Regions from separate parts of the Homo sapiens genome. Here region 2 is linked to region 1. Evidence: fine-mapped expression QTL. A gene starts in region 1. The other region holds a variant in brackets. All regions are shown on one strand. Distances are from middle to middle.

The links. PIP is the estimated chance that this variant, and not a neighbour inherited with it, causes the effect.
Region 2: its variant is the best candidate, but not a certain one, in a credible set for the expression of ZBTB7B in whole blood (TOPMed, PIP 0.83).

The regions. Positions count from the first base shown.
Region 1 is chr1:155,000,641-155,005,640 of GRCh38, forward strand. ZBTB7B (zinc finger and BTB domain containing 7B) reads left to right here and starts at 2,162. Exons shown (of 3, transcript NM_001256455.2): 1 at 2,162-2,303. RefSeq lists silencers at 281-360, 441-660, 1,061-1,300, 1,411-1,600, 3,311-3,430 and 2 more and an enhancer at 4,134-4,806.
Region 2 is chr1:154,978,046-154,983,539 of GRCh38, forward strand. CKS1B (CDC28 protein kinase regulatory subunit 1B) reads left to right here. Exons shown (of 3, transcript NM_001826.3): 2 at 1-69; 3 at 680-1,206. The coding sequence ends at 732. It overlaps FLAD1 (flavin adenine dinucleotide synthetase 1), which reads left to right and starts at 5,299. Exons shown (of 7, transcript NM_025207.5): 1 at 5,299-5,494. RefSeq lists enhancers at 3,354-3,951, 4,552-5,149 and a silencer at 5,032-5,211. The variant T/G (reference allele first, on the strand shown) is at 3,233.

The DNA of each region.
Region 1 (5,000 bases):
CCCCCCCGCCCCCCGCCCCCTGCCCCCCGCCCCCTTTCCTTGGCTATCCTCCTTCCTCCCCAAAGCAGCCCCCTCTCCATTTCACTTGTGGCACTGCCGCCTAGCCCCTAGCACAGCCCTTCACCAGGCCTGCACGACCCAGACGGCTGGAGTAGGAAGGGGAAAACCCCGGCCTGGACGGCTCCGGGCCCCTCCGGACCAGGATCTGTCCGGCGGGGCTGAGAAGAAAACCCGGAGCAGTGATCAGCCTCGCGACCCAAGGGGGTCAGGGACGATAGGAAAACCCGGAGCGGATTACTCGAGCCAGAGCGCCCCATGCCTGCCGCTACCTCCTCCTTCCTATAGCCCCCCTAATTCTCCAGTGAGATAATGTCTGGGGTGGGGGGCTGTTTGGTTTGGCCTGAGCCCTCAGGGGCGCCTCACACTTTCCGCCCCTGGCTGGGGCGCAGGGCAGCGGCCCCGAGGCTGAGTCACGGCCCGGCGCGGAGAGGGAGAGAGGGAGAAAGAGGGAGGGAGGGACCTGGACTCCGCCCCTCGTGCGCGGGGATCCCGGGTCAGCCCGGGTGAGGGCCAGGGCCCCCCTGGCGCCGCCCATTGTGGTCCAACAGGTTGAGCTGGTGTCCCGAGAAGCCACCTGCTGGAAAGGGAGGGAGGCCCCCTGCGGAGGGGGGTTGGGAGGGGAAAGCGAGTCCGACCCGGTTCGGCCTGGCTTGTCGCAGGGGAGCCAAACCTGGCCCTAGGTAGCCGGATTTGATTCCATTTGACACTAGTGGGAGGGGCCCTTTGGGGTACGCAGCTCCGCAGGCTCAGTCAGAAACATCCTTCACCCGCTACCTTTCTCAGTTGGGGGACTCCTAAGTATTTATCCCGGTCCTCCCCAAAACCTACACATACCACACATCCCAAAACATCCAGGCACCCCTCGCCACCTGGGTCTCTCAGCGAATTCATGTCAAGCTATCCCTCCTCGGTGGAGACTCAGTTTCTCCACTTAGGGAACCCGCGGGATGGAGGTGGGGAGCAAAAGCGTCGGCGCGCCCCCTCCCCCTTCGCAGACTGGGCCCCTCCCCTCCGACAATGCCAAGGCCGCAGCGGGCACTGGCGACAGCACAGAGGCTGCTTGCCTGGGGCGCCCTTCCCTCCCCGCGGGGCACCGTCACGCGTGGGGAGGGACGCAGGGCGCCCGCAGGCTCAACTCCCCGGCTCCCTCCGAGAGGGGGTGGGGCGTAGGGGCCGGAGCCGAAGGCCTGGTGGCTCCCCCTCCCCCTCCCTTCTAGGTCCCTGACCTGATTACAGCCCCTCACGGGACCCCCTCCCTCAAGACCCTAAGTCCCCAATTCACCCCCACCCAGCCTATCCCTAACCTCTCATACCCTTCCCTCCTGAGGTCCTGACCCTACAGAAGCCCCTCTTGAAGGAGAGGGAGCCCCTGTAGGGGGTGCTCGATTCCCTGGCCGCTGCGGACACTGCCCCCTCCCCCCTCCTCTCCAGGTTCCAGGCCAGCCCCTCGGCTCCGCCCCCTCCCTGGACGAACGCAAGGCGAGACCTACTGGAGATGAGCGGGTATTCAGGCCAATGAGCGGACAGGGCGGTGGCGTGCAGGGGGCGGGCAGAGCAGCAGCAAAGGGCTGGATGGGGGCCGGGGGCGGAGTTTGAGTTAAGGTGGACTGGGAGAGATAGGGGCAGGAGAAAGGGGGGGGAGAGAGGGACCGCGGCAGGTGAAGGGAGACAGAGAGAAGGAAAGAAGGAGGGAAAGGAGGAGGGTGGGAAAGGCTAGGAGAGCTAAGTAAGAGTTTGGAGAAGGGGGCAAAAAAGGAGGGAGGGACCCATCTGCGCTCTGCAGGGACTGGCTGGACGAAGGGGTTGAAGTTTATGTCCTTATTGGGCGGAGGGAGGGGGCCTGGGGGGGCGGGTGAAAAACCAGGAAGTGACAGAGGGTGTTTCTAAGTGTTGGGGGGGGGGAGTTTGGGGGGTGGCAGGGGCGGGGGGAGGGAGGGGAGGGATGGGGGGAAAGCAAGCTGGAGGACAGGTGAGACAGCAGGACAGGTGAGGCGGGCCCTGAGGGGGGGGCGGGTGGGAGCCAGGTGAATGTACGGCTCTTGGCGGCCGAGGGGGGGCGGGCGGCAGGAGGAGGCAGAGGGCGGCGGAGGAGGAGCCCCCCAGCAGCGAGCGGCGAGCAACTGACCGCGGCCTTCTGACCAGGACCGGAGCAGGGCCCCAAGCCCCCGGGCCTGGTGGGGGACGCGCTTCTTCCCACACTGTGAGCCTCAGCAGCTCCAGCCAGCGGACCCGACGGCTGAGAGGTGAGTGTACCCCACTTTTGTCTCCTGGCTCGGGGTTCACTAGGCTCGAGACTACTGCAGTGTCCTTCGTCCGTCCTGTAAGTGGGACCCCCAGATACACACGCATGCAGATCACATTCCCACCACTCCCCTTCCCTGTGCTTTCCCAACACCCCGGGTCTCTGGAATTGGTTTTAACTGAGATGAAAGACAGAGAAGGAACTGCGGATGCCCCCCAACCCTAGGCGGAGGGTCCCCAGAAAGTTTATCTGCACTTCTCCTGGGATCAGACAGACAGACGGCTTCGGGATGGAGAGGGGGTGAGGCGACGCTGAGCGTTCCCCCAGTCTCCTTCGTGACTTTAGGGGGAGACCCCAGACCGGACTGAGTTGAGGGAATGGAAACGCTGACGGACTCTAACTAGGACAACGCGCACCCCCCCCCCACCCCGCGCCCCCTGGCGCGGTGGATTGGCCCCAGGCCAGTTGCATGGGGGTTGGGGGGGCGCAGGAGGAGCCGCGGCTTGGGGGAAAGTTACCGGCTGGACTATTCGGTTTCTTGCGCTTCCAGAGCCGCGCTCTCTCCAGCGGTAGTGGGGCTCAGCAACAACCTCTGAACCGACATAGAACGACCGCTCTCTTCCCTGCCCCTCAATCCCACTCCCTTCCTTCAGGCTCCAGTCCCGCCGCTACCTTTTCCACGCCAGCTCATGACCACAGAACCCAAGAGCGAGGGCGGGTGACTAGGAAGAATTCTCCTACCTACTACCCGTCCCCCCACCGGCGCCGGCGCACCTGCCCCAGCCCAGAGTGGGGGTCGCTACTGTGTTGTTGTAGAACCTACAGAGTGCGCCTGGCAGAAGGCTGCCATTCAAAGGGGTGGGGGGCGCTGCTTTCAATTTCCAGCTTTCTCTCCCTCCTCCCACCCCATCCCAAGTAAGAGAGCGACGTGTCCCGGCCAGAGCGAGGTGGGGGCGGGAGTGGGGGGGCGGCGTGGGCAGCGGGTTGTGCCCGGACACGTGCCTGCCCAGGCGCCCCGGCCCTGCTGGTGTTTAGAGAGAGGGCGGGTCCCCTGCCCCCCGCCCCGCACAACCCCCACGTATCAAAGGGCGGCTGAGACATGGTGAGACCTCGGGGCGCCCTGGGGGGCAGGGGGGCGGGGAGCCTGGGTCCGGAGCAGGGGAGGGGCAGAGGCGCCGGTGCTAGCTGACCCACAGGAAACGAGCGCTGCTGACCTAGTTTGGGACACCGGAAGTGGGTGCTGGGGAGAGGGGGAGACCGGCAGGCTGTCCAGGCTTCCGGGCCAGGTGGAGGGTGTTCTTGAATTGACCCCCGCCCGAATGCCTTGGAGACCCCTAGCTGCAGCCGAGAATGGGAATGAGTCAGCGCAGCTATTCCCCCTTCCCCCAACTTATTCCTGGAGGAGGGAGACCGCTTATCAGGGACGGGGGAACCAGATTGGGCTGTGAGGGGTTAAAGCAGGATGGGAACTGTCTGGTCCCTAAGGGAGTATGTGTGAGTGTGGGGATGAGGCCTGGAGGATTATGGGGTTGCCTCCTGCTGCCCCACACACACCAACTGGTTTGGTCACCCCTGTACCCGCCTGGCACTGCTGGGAGAGCTGGCATGGAGTGGACATCAGGTTGGGGAGGAGAGAGTGGGCATAAGGAGTGTTGTGCTGCGCTAGAGAGGGACATATGTGTGACTATGTCTGGATGATAGTTAGTGTTCCTCCTTAGTGGTAACTGGGGAGAAGGGTAGGGGGCTCCCCCTGGAGCAGCTGATGAAACAAGGAGAAATCTCTGTCAGTGCCTCTGTCCCTGGCCCCAGGGACCCCAGCTCCCCCAGCGTGCCTCTGTTACATGGTTGCTGTGGGCACAACACAACCTGCTGGCACCCCCAGACACTGTCCCCTCCCTTGGGTACCACACACCCCCAGCCCTGGCACAGGGGTCAAAAAGGGGTTAATACCACCAGAATGGGGCTCTGGGGAAGAAAGAAGGCAGTGCCCACTAGGCTCAGGTGTCAAGGAGACAGGCTTGCTCTAATGGGACTCTCATCACTACTCAGTTCTGGCTGATGTAGACCCCAGTGTCTGGAAGACAGGTGCTGTCCCCTTCTTCTTCCCCATGGTGCCCCCTGGCACCCAGGGCCCCCAGCTCCTCCTTGGCCTAGTGCCTGCCCAGGGAGGGTGCGGCGGGCAGCGGGGGCTGGGCTAACAATGCACCATCAGGCCCTTTGTGTGCCTGCACTTGGCACCCTGGGGAAGGGTGGGGGAGGGGGCCCAGCAGGCATGGGGGGCGGAGCGCTCTGGGGTGGGGACAGTGAAGGCTGGGGGAGAGAAGCAAATGAAAGCAGGTGGGGAGGAAAGGGAAGTAGGTCAGATAGGGTGCCAGCCCCCCATTCCAAGCCAAGGCTGAGAGAACCAGCCCCTGATCCTATGGCTGCCTGGATGGCATCAGACTGAGGGACAGCCTAGGACTGGGCATTTGGGGTCAGAAGTCACTGCCCAGGGGACTGCTCAGATGGAGAAGGTTTGGCCTGGTACTGCCCCCTTCTTAATGGCTGAGAGACCCAATTCTTCTGGCCCAAGACCAAGGCCCCAAGATGAGTAGTGAATGGGCTCCAGGCAGGGCACTGCCCTCTGACAGAAGCCTCTGGGCCTGCTGCGGGGCTTCCTGCCTCTGCCCCGCTTGGCTCCCTGACCTTCCTGAGAGTT
Region 2 (5,494 bases), 22 kb before region 1:
AATCTGAATGGAGGAATCTTGGCGTTCAGCAGAGTCAGGGATGGGTCCATTATATGATCCATGAACCAGGTCAGTGCACTGGCTAAAAACAACCATATAGAACTGCTACACTGAGAGAATGAAAGAATAAGATTGTATAACCCAAATAGGGAGATAGGAAATGGTTTACTGGTTCCTTCCCCCTCCAGTCGTGGGGGATTTTTTTAAAAAAAAACTAGTGACCAAAAATAAGACTAAAATATCTGGGAAGTTCAGAGACAACCTGTCACTGAAAAACCTCCTGTAATCTTTCATTCAATCAGAGGGTATTCTTTTTAAGGCCACATATAGCCTGATCATAGCCCCTGCCTCATTCTCCATCGAAAACATTCTTGGATGTGTTCTAAATAAGCAAAGGAAAGTATATTTATTGATAAGACACCAGACACCCAGCTGCCAGGCAAAACTAATAAGGGACACCCTGGGGCTGTATAAACATAGCAAAAGAACTGATATTAACAATTCTGTACTTGGCAGACAGTCCAGACTTCTGGGTCTGCTTCTAAGGCCATATGCTTAAGTCTTTATTTAGTTATAAAGATCTGAGTGGGTGATAGCTGGGGAGGTGGTAGTGGAATACACTATAGGTTGTACATAGAATGGTGTGAGCTTGTCTCTTAGATTTCCCTCACTCTTTCAGAACCTCACATCTTGCTGTTCCGGCGCCCACTACCCAAGAAACCAAAGAAATGAAGCTGGCAAGCTACTTTTCAGCCTCAAGCTTTACACAGCTGTCCTTACTTCCTAACATCTTTCTGATAACATTATTATGTTGCCTTCTTGTTTCTCACTTTGATATTTAAAAGATGTTCAATACACTGTTTGAATGTGCTGGTAACTGCTTTGCTTCTTGAGTAGAGCCACCACCACCATAGCCCAGCCAGATGAGTGCTCTGTGGACCCACAGCCTAAGCTGAGTGTGACCCCAGAAGCCACGATGTGCTCTGTATCCAGAACACACTTGGCAGATGGAGGAAGCATCTGAGTTTGAGACCATGGCTGTTACAGGGATCATGTAAACTTGCTGTTTTTGTTTTTTCCTGCCGGGTGTTGTATGTGTGGTGACTTGCGGATTTATGTTTCAGTGTACTGGAAACTTTCCATTTTATTCAAGAAATCTGTTCATGTTAAAAGCCTTGATTAAAGAGGAAGTTTTTATAATCTAGTGCTGTAATTGTACGGGTTTTTTCCCCCTCACTCAGGGTGAGCATCATCAATATCATGGTTCTAATTATATGCCCTTCAGTTTGATAATGAAGCTCAGCTCTTTGCTGATAATGAGGTTTAACATTGAGATAACTGGTTTTTAATCTACTTTAAGCAGACTTGCTGTCAAACATCTACTGAAATATATTTCACTCTAACTACTAGCCTGAGGTAGAGGTTATATAGGGACAACTTCATCTCATCCAAACAAATGAACTGCTTCCTACAGTCGGGGTGCTGCCTTTAACATAGTCCCAATATTTGAATGGCACACATGGATAAAAGGATGCTGTCAGTCAGGGGCTGCTTGTGTGTCCCAATTCCTAATAGGAATAATAGGCATATCTATGACCTATTCACTGTGCCCCTTGGTTGGGGAAGGTTTTCAGCTGTTCTTAACTTGGCTTGGGCGTTGGAATCACCTGGGGAGCTTTACAAGTACTGATGCCTGCCTGAGTCATTCTTAAGGATTCTTAATTGGTCTGGAGTGTGGACTGGGGGTAAAGATTTCAGGCATCTTATGCAGGTAGGTAAAGAACTAAGCTTTGAGAAAACAGGTGCAAAATGTAGCTGTTTAAGAAAACATTCCAGGCCACACGTGGTGGCTCACACCTGTAATCCCAGCATTTTGGGAGGCTAAGGAGGGCAGATCACTTGAGGTCAGGAGTTCGAGACCAGCCTGGCCAACATGGTGAAACTCCCGTCTCTATTAAAAATACAAAAATTAGGCTGGGTGCAGTGGCTCATGCCTGTAATCCCAGCACTTTGGGAGGCTGAGGTGGGTGGATCACCTGAGGTCAGAAGTTTGAAACCAGCCTGGCCAACATGGTGAAACCCCATCTCTACTAAAACAAAATTAGCCGGGCGTGGTGGCACACGCCTGTAATCCCAGCTACTCCGGAGGCTGAGGCAGGAGAATCACTTGAACCTGGGAGGCAGAGGTTGCAGTGAGCTGAGATCACGCTATTGCACTTCAGCTTGGGCAACAAGAGTGAAACTCTGTCTCAAAAAAATAAAAATAAATTAGCCGGGCGTGGTGTGTGCCTGTAATCCCTGCTACTCAGGAGGCTGAGGTGAGAGGATCGCTTGAACCCGAGAGGCAGAGGTGAAAGTGAGCCAAGATCACACCACTGCACTCAGCCTGGGCGACAGAAGCTGTGTCTCAATTTAAAAAAAAAACATTCCACAGAATAATAACTTCCCCTCTAGTCTAACAAAACAGTAGTACTAAGTGGCCGGGCGTCGTGGCTCACGCCTGTAATCACAGCACTTTGGGAGGCCGAGGCTGGCGGATCATGAGGTCAGGAGATCGAGACCATCCTGGCTAACATGGTGAAACCCTGTCTCTACTAAAAATACAAAAAAATTAGCTGGGCAAGGCGGTGGGCGCCTGTAGTCCCAGCTACTCGGGAGGCTAAGGCAGGAGAATGGCGTGAACTCGGGAGGCGGAGCTTGCAGTGAGCCGAGATTGCGCCACTGCACTCCAGCCTAGGCGACAGAGCCAGACTCCGCCTCAAAAAAAAAAGAAAAAAAAATACTAGTACTAAGTAAGGATATTAATCTCCCCCATTTTTCCTGTCTTCCATCCACTTATTCCTAAAATAGCAGGCATCAACATCGGGAAAATTCATTAGAAATGCAAATTATTGGGCAACAACCTAGACCTACTGAATCCTAAACTCAGGATTGGGCACAGCAATGTTTTAACAAGCTCTCCAGCTGATTCTGATGTACACTTAAGCTTGAGAATCCACTAGGAAAATACTGGAACAGTCTTGGTATTCTGTTTTGGGAGGGGATCAAATATCACCTGTATTGCTAATAAAGATATTGGAACATGTGGTTTACTAGGCAAGTGGAATTCTTGTTTTGCCCTTTTTTTTTTTTTCAAAGAGCTGACTTTTTATAATTGAAAGAAATGAGGGCCAAGTACGGGGGCTCACACCTGTAATCCCAATACTTTGGGAGGCCAAGGCAGGGAATCACT[T/G]GAGCCCAGGAGTTCAAGACCAGCCTGCGCAACATGACCAAACTCCGTCTCTACTAAAAATACAAAAATTAGCCAGGCATGGTGGGGCGCCCCTGTGGTCCCAGTTACTCTGGAGTCTGAGATGGGAGGATCACTTGAGCCCAGGAGGTCGAGGCTGCAGTGAACGGTGCTTGCGCCACTGCACTCGAGCCTGGGCAACAGAGAGACCCTGGTTCAAAAAAAAAAAAGGGAGGGGGGGCTTATTACTTAAAAGAATGGTCTAGACACCTGATCACCTGGGTCCACCATTCACTGTGTTTTGTGGTTGTGTGGCATCCCTTCACCTTTCTGAGCCTGTTCCTCATCTGTAAAATGAGCATGATGTGTATCTTACAGGGTATTTTTTTTCTTTTTGATGGAGCCTCGTTCTGTCGCCCAGGCTGGAGTGCAGTGACACAATCTCGGCTCACTGCAAGCTGCGCCTCCCGGGTTCACGCCATTCTCCTGCCTCAGCCTCCTGAGTAGCTGGGACTACAGGCTCCCGCCACCACGCCCGGCTAATTTTTTGTGTTTTTAGTAGAGACGGGGTTTCTCCATGTTGATCAGGCTGGTCTCCAGCTCCTGACCTCAGGTGATCCGCCCGCCTCGGCCTCCCAAAGTGCTGGGATTACAGGCGTGAGTCACCGCGCCCGGCCTTTTTTTCTTTTTTTCAATTGAGAGAACTCAAGCAATCCTCCCTCCTCAGACTCCCAAAGTGCTGCGCCCGACCAAGGGTTTTGAAGAGTAAAATTTGGCAAGGTGTGGTTTACCAGTCCTACAAAGAATGAATTCGGCCCGGCGCGGTGGCTCACGCCTGTAATCACAGCACTTTGGGAGGCCGAGGCGGGCGGATCACGAGGTCAGGAGATCGAGACCATGCTGGCTAACACAGTGAAACCCCGTCTCTACTAAAAAAAAAATGAAAATAAAAAAATTTTTAAAAAAAAGCCGGGCATGGTGGCGGGCGCCTGTAGTCCCAGCTACTCGGGAGGCTGAGGCAGGAGAATGGCGTGAACCCGGGAGGCGGAGCTTGCAGTGAGCCGAGATCGCGCCACTGCACTCCAGCCTGGGTGACAGAGGGAGACTCCGTCTCAAAAAAACAAAGAATGAATTCGGGCCCTTACCATTCAAAATGTAGTCCATAGAGCAGTGGGATCACCATCACATGGGAACTAGCTAAATGCAGATCTCAGGCCCCACCCAAACCTACTGAATCAATCTGCATATGAAAAGATCCCCAGATTATTGTTGGAAAAAAGTTTAAGATGTACTTTTAGAACAAAGGCAACTGAAATGGGGGTAAGCTCGGATGATGTGAGGATCCAGAGTAAACATGTAAGGCACTCCCTATTCGCTGCCTCATTTGCACCTACAAGACCAATTACTGGGAAAGGTCATTTGAACTAAGCACCATCTGGAGCAAGGTGGAGGAAGAGAGGGTTTTTGGACTCTTTCTTGTCAAAGAGATTTAAGTAATTCGTTTTGTCTACTATACTAGAGATAAATTAAGGTTCCACACATCAAAAGCTCACCTACTCCAGGGTCTTCATATCCGACAGACAGTGGTAATAATCTTTCTCGGTGTCCCTCCAACTTCCTTCTGCTATAAATAAGATGCTTTCTCACTCCAGTAAAAGCCCTTAGCCTAGTGTTAGAGTCACGGTGAATGAAAACAGCTTAAACCATGGCTAACTGACCCATTAAACAAAACAAAACAAAGCAACACATGCATAACAATTATTTGAATCCAGCACCAGAAACTCCCCGAGGGCCTTACAGCACCTTTAACTACGGCTCCTTTCCCGCCCTAAACTCCCGAGGTCCCGCCCCCGACCGTGGGCTAAGGTCCGGCCCCCGTATTTCCGGGCGAGAAGTGACCACGTGGTTGTCGCCTATAACAATCCGGCCCTGCTCCCATCCACTGGCTAAAGCCTGAGAGCGACAGTTGAATACACCAATGGGACCCTGGAAGAGTCTAAGCGACAGCCAAAATCACCATTCAATGTCAGCTAGGTGCAAGGCGGGACTTTAAGTACGGAAGCTGCCCCGGGACATGAGGAAAGGAACAAGGGAAAGAGCCGGTGAAGGGGCAGAACAGGCAGGTGAGAGTCTAAGAGGGCTCAGTAATCTGAAGCTTGGTGGGAAGAAGGGATTCTGGGCTAGAAAGGGTGCAGAAGCCTGAAGTAGAAAGAGACGGGATTTTGGTCCGGGGTGGAGAGCGAATGCATTGAAAAGGGCCAAGGC